Linked DNA regions of Homo sapiens: region 2 is linked to region 1. The links come from fine-mapping of genetic effects on gene expression. Tissue or cell type: whole blood. Region 1 holds a variant in brackets; the other region holds the start of a gene. All regions are shown on one strand. Distances are between the middles of the regions. Region 1 has its middle 26 kb from the start of FGF21. Region 2 holds the start of BCAT2 (branched chain amino acid transaminase 2).

Region 1 (5,222 bases):
AGGCTACAAAGACTGCGGCTTCCATCGTGGTCTCTCTCTCACTCTCTCTTTCATCACTTGCTCTGGGAGAAGCTAGTGGCCAAGACACGAGGAATGCCCAAGCAGCCCATGCAGACATCAACAGCCAGCGAGGAACTAAGGCCTCCAGCCAACAGCCCTGTGAGTGAGCTCGGATAGGCCAGGCTCAGTGGCTCACACCTGTAATACCAGCATTTTGGGAGGCCAAAGCAAGTGGATAACTTGAAGCCAGGTGTTCGAGAACCAGCCTGGCCAACATGGTGAAATCCCGTCTCTACTTAAAAATACAAAAAATTAGCTGGGTGTGGTGGCACGTGCCTGTAATCCCAGCTACTCGGGAGGCTGACGCAGGAGAATCACTTAAACCTGGGAGGCAAAGGTTTCAGTGAGTGGAGACTGTGCCACTGCACTCCAGCCTGGGCAACAGAGTGAGACTCTGAGACTCTGTCTCGAGAGAAAAAAAAAAAGAGGGTTCTCCAGCCTCTGTCGAGCCTTCACATGACTGCAGTCCTGGCTGACAAGCTTGACTGAAACCTGAACCAGGAACACCCAGCCGAGCTGCTTGGGATTCCTGACCCTCCAGAAACTATGTGAGAAGGCCAGGCACCATGGCTGACACCTGTAATCCCAGAACTTTGGGAGGCCGAGGCAGGCAGACCACTTGAGGTCAGGAGTTCAGGGCCATCTCTACTAAAAATACAAAAATTGGGAGGCCGAGGCAGGTGGATCACGAGGTCAGGAGATCGAGACCATCCTGGCTAACACGGTGAAACCCCATCTCTACTAAAAATACAAAAAATTAGCCAGGTGTGGCAGTGGGTGCCTGTGGTCCCAGCTACTTGGGAGGCTGAGGCAGGAAAATGGCGTGAACCCAGGAGACAGAGCTTGCAGTGAGCAGAGATCATGCCACTGCACTCCAGCCTGGTGACAGAGCGAGACTCCGTCTCAAAAAAAAAAAAAAAATTAGCCAGGTGTGGTGGTAGGTGCCTGTAATCCCAGCTACTAAAAAAAAAAGAGAGAGAGAGAAGGGAAAAAAAAAACTATGTGATACAATAAATATTTGTTGTTTAAGCTGTGAGGAATTAACTCAGGGGTAATTTGTTAGACAGCAATAGATGACTACTACACTGCTATCTGCATCCAACCGGCAGGTAGAGAAAAGAGAGAGGGCACATTAGAAGTTCCCTAATGGGTGTGGCTGGAAGTGAGGCAGGGCTCTTCTCATTGGCCAGAACCACTCACATAACCCCAGTGACTTGCAAGGGGTGCTGGGAGATATAATCCCCCCAGGGGCACTGTCACACAATAACAAATATATATTTGGTCTCTGTCCCCCCAGTTTCTGGGACAGAGCTTTGAAACCCCTTATAATTTCCCCAGTGTTAGGGATGCCAGCAGCATCTTTTGTTCTAATATTTGATCTTTGACCCCAGTTCCCGACAAAGGGCTCCTAAATCCCTTGGAATTTCCTGAGTAATGGGAGCATCATTTTTTCTTTTTTCTTTTTATTTTCTTCTTCCCTTTTTTTTTTTTTTTTTTTTTTTTTTTTTTGTTTGAGACAGCGTCTTGCTCTGTCACCAGGCTGGAGTGCAGTGGTGCAATCTCCACACACTGCAACCTCTGCCTCCTGGGTTCAAGCAAGTCTCCTGCTTCAGCCTCCCAAGTAGCTGGGACTACAGGTGCCCGCCACCATGCCTGGCTAATTTTTGTATTTTTAGTAGAGACGGGGGTTTCACCATGTTGGCAAGGTTGGTCTGGAACTCCTGACTTCAGGTGATCTACCCCCTTGGCCTCCCAAAGTGCTGGGATTACAGGCGTGAGCCACCACACCCAGCTGAGAGCACCTTTTTTTCTAATGAGGTGACTCTTGGTGGGCTCCTGATGGGGGCTGATCACCAGCAAGACTCAGTCAATATTAGAAGCATGGAACCTGTAGCCCCATCCCACTCCACATCTTTCCGGAAGAAGAGGGAACTGGAGCTGGAATTACTAATCTATCCTACTTATGCGCTGAAGTCTCCATAAAAGTCCCTAAAGTATGGGGGTGGGAGAGGTTCCTTGTAGCGTCCAGCCCTACAGGGCCTTGTGGGTTTTCTCTTCGTGTGTGGAGATGAGAGATTGTAGAAAGAAAGACATGAAACTAAGAGAGAGTATGAAAGACAGCTGGGCCCAGGGGGCCACTACCACCAGTGCATGGAGTCCATTAGTGGCCTCGAATGCCTGGACTGCTGCTATTTATTGTATACAAGGCAAGGGGGCAGGGTAAGGAGTGTGAGTCATCTCAAATGATTAATAAGGTCAAGCAAGTCACGTGTCCATGTGACAGGGGGCCTTTCCCTTTTTGGTAGACGAAGCAGAGAGGGAAGACAGCATACGGTCAGCATTTTTTCTATGTACTTATCAGAGAGATCAAAGACTTTAATATTTTCACTATTTCTGCTACTGCTATCTCCCAGGAACTTAAAAGAGGAACCAGGTGTACAGGCGGAACATGAAAGTGGACAAGGATCATGACCACTGAAGCACAGTACCACAGGGAGATGTTTAAGCCTCCGGATGACTGTGGGCAGGCCTGGCTAATGTCCGGCCTCCCACAAGAGGCTGGTGAGGCAGAGTGTTCTCTAACTCCCCCAAGGAAGGGGAAACTCCCTTTCCCGGTCTGCTAAGTAACGGGTGCCTTCCCAGGCACTGGTGCTACCACTAGACCAAGGCGTCCTTAAGCCCTTATCTGGGCGTGGCGGAGGACTTTCACTCTTGTCTTCTGGTCACATCTCACCATGTCCCTTCAGCTCCTGACTCTGTATCGCCTGGTTTTTCCTCAGTTATAATAATAAAACAGAGATTAATACTAAAACTAATAATTGATAATATCCATATATAATCATCTCTATATCCTATTGCTAGTATAACTTTTCTTATTCTAAGTATTTTCTTTATTATATTGAAACAGTATGTGCCTTCAATCTCTTGCCTCAGCACCTGGGTGGCTCTCTG[C/T]CCACAGTTCCGGGCGGGGAAGCACCCCAACTCCATGGAGACGCCCAACCTGGAAGCTCCCCCAAACCCATCCTTTGCTCCCGTGCTCGGGAGGCGTTCAGATGTTGCCCTTTGCACCTCTTTATCTGACAGGTTTTATTTAATTATATGATAAACTGATAAATGTGTTTTCCTTAGTTCTGTGAGGCATTGTAGCAAATTTCTGAGCCTAAGGAGGGAGTCATGGGAACCCCCATTACTAGCAAGTCAGAAGCTCGGGTGAGACCACGTGGACTTGTGATTGGCATCTCCCAAGGGGCAGCCTCGTGGGACTGAGCCTTTCACCTGTGGGATCCGATGCTATCTCCAGGTAGATAATGTCAGAGTTGGATTGAATTGTGGGACACCCAGCTTGGGTAGGAGAATTTGTCAGCGTGGGAAAAACCCCACACACCTGGTCACAGAAGTGTTGAGTGTGAGCCTGAGAAAAACAGGTGTTTTTTTCTAGATAAGATCCATGGAAGGGGAACACAATTTTTTTTTTTTTTTGAGACAGCTCTCTGTCGCCTAGGCTGGAGTGCAGTGGCGCGATCTCGACTCACTGCAAGCTCCGCCTCTCGGGTTCACGCCATTCTCCTGCCCCAGCCTCCCTCCTCCCGAGTAGCGGGGACTACAGGCGCCCACCACCACGCCCGGCTAATTTTTTGTATTTTTAGTAGAGACGGGCTTTCACCGTGTTAGCCAGGATGGTCTCGATCTCCTGACCCTGTGATCCTCCCGCCTCGGCCTCCCAAAGTGCTGGGATTACAGGCGTGAGCCACCGCGCCCGGCCAGGGAGCCTTTAATGAGTTTAAAAGTTGTTGCATTCTTTCCTTTGCTAAATTTGGTTTCACGGGGAACACATTTCCTGGCCCCTGGGATTTGGGTGTGTATCCTGGTCTGTGACGCAGGCCAGGGGCTGGCATGTGACGCGAACCGGGGGCCACTTCCCGAAGCAGGTCAGCGAGAGGCACTCTGGAGCTGTTGCCCAGCCACTAGTGACGTCATGGGCTTTCAGTCATTCCTATTGGGTGCTCTTAGTGCTCTATCCTCAAACTCCGCAACCGGCCCTTGGAAAAGACTCTGAACTGAGGCTTCTGGAAAAAAGAATCCGAGCTTCCACGTCATTTCAGAAATACCCCCCTCACCTTATTTATTTATTTATTTATTTATTTATTTATTTATTTATTTATTTATTTATTTATTGAAACAAGGTCTGACTCTGTCGCCCAGGATGGAGGGCAGTGGCGCGATCTCTGCTCACTGCAACCTGGAACTCCTGGACTCAAGCGATCCCCCACCTCAGCCTCCCGAGTATCTGGGATTACAGGTACTCGCTACCACGCTCAGCTAATTTTTAAATTTTTTGTAGAAATGGGGTTTTGCCATGTTGCCCAGGCTGGTCTCGAGCTTCTGAGCTCAAGCGATCTGCCCGCCTCGTTCTCCCAAAGGGCTAGGATTACAGGCGTGAGCCACCGCGCCTGGCCCCCAAATTCTTTTATGTTTATAAATTTAAACTGTACGCCGGGCGTGGTGGCTCACGCCTGTAATCCTAGCACTTTGGGAGTCCAAGGCAGGTGGATCACCTGAGGTCAGGAGTTCAAGACCAGCTGACCAACATGGTGAAACCCTGTCTCTACTAAAAAATACAAAAAATTAGCTGGGCGTGGTGGCACACGCCTGGAATCCCAGCTACTCGGGAGGCTGAGGCAGGAGAATGGCATGAACCCAGGAGGCGGAGGTTGCAGTGAGCCAAGATCGCACCACTGCACTCCAGCCTGGGCGACAGAGCGAGACTCCGTCTCAAAATAATAATAATAATCATCATCATCATCATCGTCATCATCATCGTCATCATCAGCCAAGGGAAAACGTGGATGGGGCAGAGTCCAGGAGACACCAGGCGTGAGCTTTCAGATGTCCTCCCCCAGTGGAGTTCTAGACAGTGCTCAATTCTCCCGGTAATGACGTGTGCCAAAACGCATGCAGTATTGCCAACCAGGGAGTCTCACCCCAGATCTTAGGATGAAAAAAAAATTTTTTTTTTTTTTTTGAGTCTTGCTTTGTCACCCAGGCTGAAATGCAGTGTCATGATTTCGGCTCACTGCAGACTCAACCTCCCAGGTTCAAGCTATTCTCATGCCTCACGAGTAGCTGGGATTACAAGGGTACGCCATCACACCTGGCTAATT
Region 2 (5,222 bases), 29 kb after region 1:
GATTACCTGAAATACAAACCCATTTTGGCAGTGACTCCAATTCCCTTCAGCCCCTGGGGCTGAGGGGCAGCTACAGGGGCCTGGGGAGCCACTGCAGTCCTCACTGCATGAGGCTCAGGCGGGTCCTCCCAGAGGGGAGTAGGAAGAGCAGGTCTGGCTGTGTCCAGCAGGCTGGGCCCTCTCTGGTGACCTTTGACCTCACAAGGCCTCTTTCCCCAGCCCTGTGGGGAGGCGTTGGGGCGTGAGGTTGAGAGAGACAGAGTGGCCTGGCCTGGCCTGCCCTGTGAGCTGGGTGAGTTGGCACTGATTCTGGAAGATGGACGTGAATGGGCGTGGTCACTTGTCGCTAGGTGAGTTGCTGGGAGATGGGCCTGCAGCGTGGTCTTGCTGGTGTGAGGCTCCAGGGATTCCGGGGTGATCAGAGCGTGGGTCCCCAGATTGCCTTTGGGTGGCGACATCTAGACTGCTCAGCCTTGCAGCCATGCTTCTGCCCAGAGGGATAGGACACCCACAGTATGAGAGACACAAACACAGTGCGACAGCCAGCCTGTGGGCAGGAGAGCTGCCCTCAGAGCCAAGATGAAAAAAAGAGAGTAAGAGATGGAAGAGGAAGGATGAGAAAAAGAAACACAGAAAGGGGCGCACAAACAGAAAAAAAAAAAAACAAAAACAGAAATTGACGCCAAGAAACAAGAGATGCCAAAATAGATCTAATCATAGAAAGAGGCCACACGCAGTGGCTCGCGCCTGTAATCCCAGCACTGTGGGAGGCCGAGGCAGGAGGATAGCTTGAGGCCAGGTGTTCAAGACCAGCCTGGGCAACATAGGGAGACCCTGTCTCTACAGAAAATACAAGTTAGCTGGGTGTGGTGGCGGGCGCCTGTAGTCCCAGCAACTTGGGAAGCTGAGGCAGGAGAATTGCTTAAACCCAGGAGGCGGAGGTTGCAGTGAGCCGAGATGGTGCCACTGCACTCCAGCCTGGGCGACAGAGCAAGACTCTCTGTCTCAATTAAAAAGAAAAAAAACAAAGAAAGAAAGTAGGCAGCTGGCTCAGTAGCTCATGCCTGTAATCACAGCACTTTAGGAGACAGAGGTGGGAGGACTGCATGAGGCCAGGAGTTCAAGATCAGCCTGGGCAATATAGCAAGACCCTGTCTCTACAAACAATTTAAAAATTAGCCAGGTATGGTGGCACACACCTGTAATTCCAGTTACTCAGAAGGCTAAGGTGGGAGGATCACCTTGACCTACTGGTCAAGGCTGTGGTGAGCTACGATCACACTGCTACACTCCAGCATGAGTGATAGAGTGTCTCTCAAAAAAAAAAAAAAAAAAAAAAAAAAAAAAGACCAGCATGGTGGCTCATGCCTGTAATCTGAGGCAGGTGGATCGCTTGAGCCCATCTACTCGGGAGGCTGAGGCACCACAGTCACTTGAACCCATGAGGCGGAGGTTACAGTGAGCCGAGATCGTGCCACGGCACTCCAGCCTGAGCAACAGAGCAAGACTCGGTCAAAAAGAAAAGACGAGACAAAGAAATAAAGTACGTTTGGGGGTTCACAGGGCAGGTCTCTATAATGTGATAGAACCTCCATTATGTCCCATACAGCCCAGGAGTATCACCATCAAAGACCAGGAGTGTCACTGTCAAAGCCCAGCAGTGCCCTCCATACTCCAGGACTGTCCCCATATCACGGCCCCGGAGAGACCCCATCATACCGCAGTCTGCCCTTGTCACAGCCCACACATGACCCCATCACGTCTAGAACTGCCCCCTTTATAGCCCAGGACTCTCCCCCATCACAGACCAGGGCTGTTCTATGATGGCCCAAGATGCTCCACATCACAAGTCCAGATTGTGCCTGTAACTTATCAGAACTGGTCCCCAGCAGAGCCAAGTACTGTCCCAAACAGCTCAGGAATGTCCCCTATCCAAAGCCCAGCACTTTTCCCCATTATAACCAGCATTGTCTCTGCCAAATATCAGGGCTTATTTCCTATTCACCAGGTCTGAAATTAAAAAAAAAAAAAAAATCCCATTGTTGTCTTTTTCAATCCCCAGGACTATCCCTATGTTGCTGTCTAGGCCAGTACCTTCCAGACTGTCCCTACCATGGTCCAGCACTGTCCTCTCCACACCCCGGGACTGTCCCCATCACAGCTGAGGACTCAGCCCAATTATCTCCATTACAGGATATCTCTATCTTCATCAGAGCCTAGGAATGTCCCATCATGAGTTCAGGGCCATTCTATGACACCAGAACTGTGCCATGATGAGACGGTCCACATCAGTCCCAAGTGGACCTGTCAAAGCCCAGTACTGCCCCACCACAGTCCAGGAGTGTCACCACTAAAGCCCAGATTGCCCACATACCCCAGGTATCCCAGGACTATCCCTATCAGTCACTAAGAGCCGAAAAAAGTGAAATTCTGCCCTGACATTCATCAGCTAGGATAAGAGACTCAAATAAAGTCAGGTGTAAAGTTAACAGACAGTTCTCCCAAGGTTACACCGCAGCTGTGAAGGCTTGTAATGACCCCTTTCTTTGGCTGTTTCCTTCCTCACTGAGAAACCTTGTTCTCTGAAATCATAGACTCTGGGAAACGCTGCTGCTGTTTGACATCGCACAGTCAGAAGGGATCGTCTCAGCCAGCCTGCAGCATCTGTCACTTTGACCATGAGACGCTGCCTCGATTTCCAATCCAGGTGCAAAGCTTCAGATAGGAGTTTGGGAAGCACAGCAATCCCCATCTCTTATTTTTTTCAACTTTCATTCCAAGAAAATAGGACCTTGAGTCCAATTCCCAGAGCTGAGACTTGAGGTCCAACTCTGCCTTCACCTGCACCCGGCCCTGGAGGTCTGGGCCCCTTTATTCCAGCTCCCGCACAGGCTGATGCCCCACCGCACCCCAGGGCTCCGCTCCCCAAATCACAACCTCCCCACCCCCACGCCTCCCTCATTACAGGGTCCTCCACCATGTTTCCCTTTTTTTTTTTTTTTTTACCTCCCCGCCAATTACTTGCCCCACCTCATCCGCGTCTACCTGCTCCCCCTCACCCCATTAAAGCCTCGTGCTCCTTTCCAAAGGGCGCCATCCTCCTCCGCGCCCTGCAGCGGAACCCCAGGGCGGGAGGAGCGGCGCCGAGTCGGACCGGCTGCAGGCCAGTGGTCTTCCCGGAAGTGCGCCTCCCCCGGTTATTTCCCAGACCCCGGCGCGGGGCTGCGAACCCACCTGCCCCAGAGCGGCTGCGGCCATGATCCGTGCGGCGCGTAACTGTGCCCGCCCGGGGCGCGGCTCCGAAGAGAGACGTTCCGGCCACGCCCCGCTCACGCCTCCTTCTGGGGGAAGGCGGCCGACCAGCGCCCCAGGCCGTCCCAGCTCCAGGGCGTCGGCAGGGAGCCGGACACTGCTGCGGGGCGCAGGCGCTGGTGGGAGGGCAGGACTTGAAATACGGTCCCTGCCAGGCGAAGTGGCTCAGGTCTGTAATCTTAGCACTTTGGGAGGCCGAAGCGGGCGGATTACCTGAGGTCAGGAGTTAGAGACCAGCCTGGTCCAACATGATGAAACCCCGTCTCTACTAAAAATACAAAAAATTAGCCGGGCGTGGTGGCGGGCGCCTGTAATCTTAGCTACTCGGAAAGCTGAGGCAGGAGAATTGCTTGAATCGGGGAGGCAGAGGTTGCAGTGAGCCGAGATGATGCCACTGCACTCCAGCCTGGGCGACAGAGTGAGACTCCGTCTCAAAAAAAAAAAAAAAAAAAAGTCCTGGCTTGGTGGCTCACACCTGTAATCCCAGCACTTTGGGGGCCAAGGCGGGTGGATCACCTGAGGCCAGGAGTTCAAGACCAGCCTGGCCGACATGGGGAAACCCCGTCTCTACTAAAAATACAAAAATTAAGGCCAGGCACGGTGGCTTACGCCTGTAATCCCAGCACTTTGGGAGGCCGAGGTGGGCGGATCACAAGGTCAGGAGTTCAAGACCCGCCTGACCAACATGGTGAAACCCCGTCTCTACTAAAGATACAAAAATTAGCCGGGTGTGGTGGTGTGCGCCTGTAATCCCAGCTACTAGGGAGGCTGAGGCAGGAGAATCATTTGAACCCTGGAGGCGGACGTTGCGGTGAGCCGAGATCGCGCCACTGCATTTCCAGCCTGGGTGACAGGGTGAGACTCCGTCTCAAAATAAATAAATAAATAAAAATAAATACATAAAAATACAAAAATTAGTCGAGCGTGGTGCCGGGGGCCTGTAATCCCAGCTATTCGGGAGGCTGAGGCAGGAGAATCGCTTGAACCCGGGAGGCGGAGGTTGCAGTGAGCCGACATTGCACCACAGCACTCCAGCCTGGGCGACAGAGTGAGACTCCGTCTCAAATTAAAAAAAAAAAAAAAAAATCGTATCCCTCGGCCATCGTGTCTCGGCAATCCTACCCTGGGACACTCTGTCTCCAAATTCTACCCCCACAGTGCCCCCAAGTCCTGTCCCCGGGTCACTATCCTGCCACCCCTAACAGCCACAGGCCCAAACAGCCAAACCGCGGGACCCTTCCCTCACAGGGCGTCGCCCTGTTTTTCTGCGCTCCGCCCCAGTCCTCCTGCCCCACCCGCCAGCCCCGGGCTGTAGGGTCGGGGCCCACTGACAGCTCCCGCCCCCGCCGCGGCCAATCAGCGGTTGGTGCACACGCCCCCCCGGCCACAGCCAATCCGCAGCAGCCCTGCAGCTCCACCCCTCACCTGGGGGACGCCAGCGCACCCGGGCCCTGCCCCCCCCCTGGGTCCAGCTGGGGAGTCTGCGTCCCCCAGTGCCCTGCGGACCAAAACCCAGGAGTTTCAGCCCCTCCTCCCTCTGATCCAGATGTCTCAACCCCCTACTTTCTCTTCCCTTTGGACTTTTCTTGCCAGCCACCTTCCTATTCTACAGGCAGTGAGAGGAAAACTCCTTTTCCCTGAGGGCCAAGAGTAAGAGGGCCTTCTGCGTCTCCCCCTCCATTACCTCCTAATTAGCGCTTAATTTACTCTCCCCTGCGGGCCTTTAGTTAGCGCGCTGGTGAAGCCAAACCGCTCTACCCTTCCCAGGAGCCCCTGGCGACAGCGACAGGGCTAGCAACATCAGGCACCTGCTTGCTGCAAGGCCTGGGGTTGGGGGGCGGGGGGAGCTGCAGTCCTTCAGGGTCGAGGCAACTTGTGGGTCTGGGGTGCAAGGGCTAAGTGGGGCAGAA

The links. PIP is the estimated chance that this variant, and not a neighbour inherited with it, causes the effect.
Region 2: it holds the start of BCAT2, and the variant in region 1 is the best candidate, but not a certain one, in a credible set for the expression of BCAT2 in whole blood (INTERVAL, PIP 0.77).

The regions. Positions count from the first base shown.
Region 1 is chr19:48,778,598-48,783,819 of GRCh38, forward strand. No RefSeq gene overlaps it. Among named protein-coding and RNA genes, the nearest start is that of FGF21, 26 kb to the left of the region's middle. RefSeq lists a cis regulatory region at 2,191-2,831. The variant C/T (reference allele first, on the strand shown) is at 3,013.
Region 2 is chr19:48,807,750-48,812,971 of GRCh38, forward strand. It overlaps BCAT2 (branched chain amino acid transaminase 2), which reads right to left and starts at 3,280. Exons shown (of 11, transcript NM_001190.4): 1 at 3,235-3,280. The coding sequence starts at 3,258. It overlaps LOC105372432 (a long non-coding RNA gene), which reads left to right. Exons shown (of 3, transcript XR_936017.4): 2 at 220-350; 3 at 2,595-3,088. RefSeq lists enhancers at 2,860-2,929, 3,203-3,497, silencers at 3,250-3,469, 4,546-4,855 and a cis regulatory region at 4,359-4,899.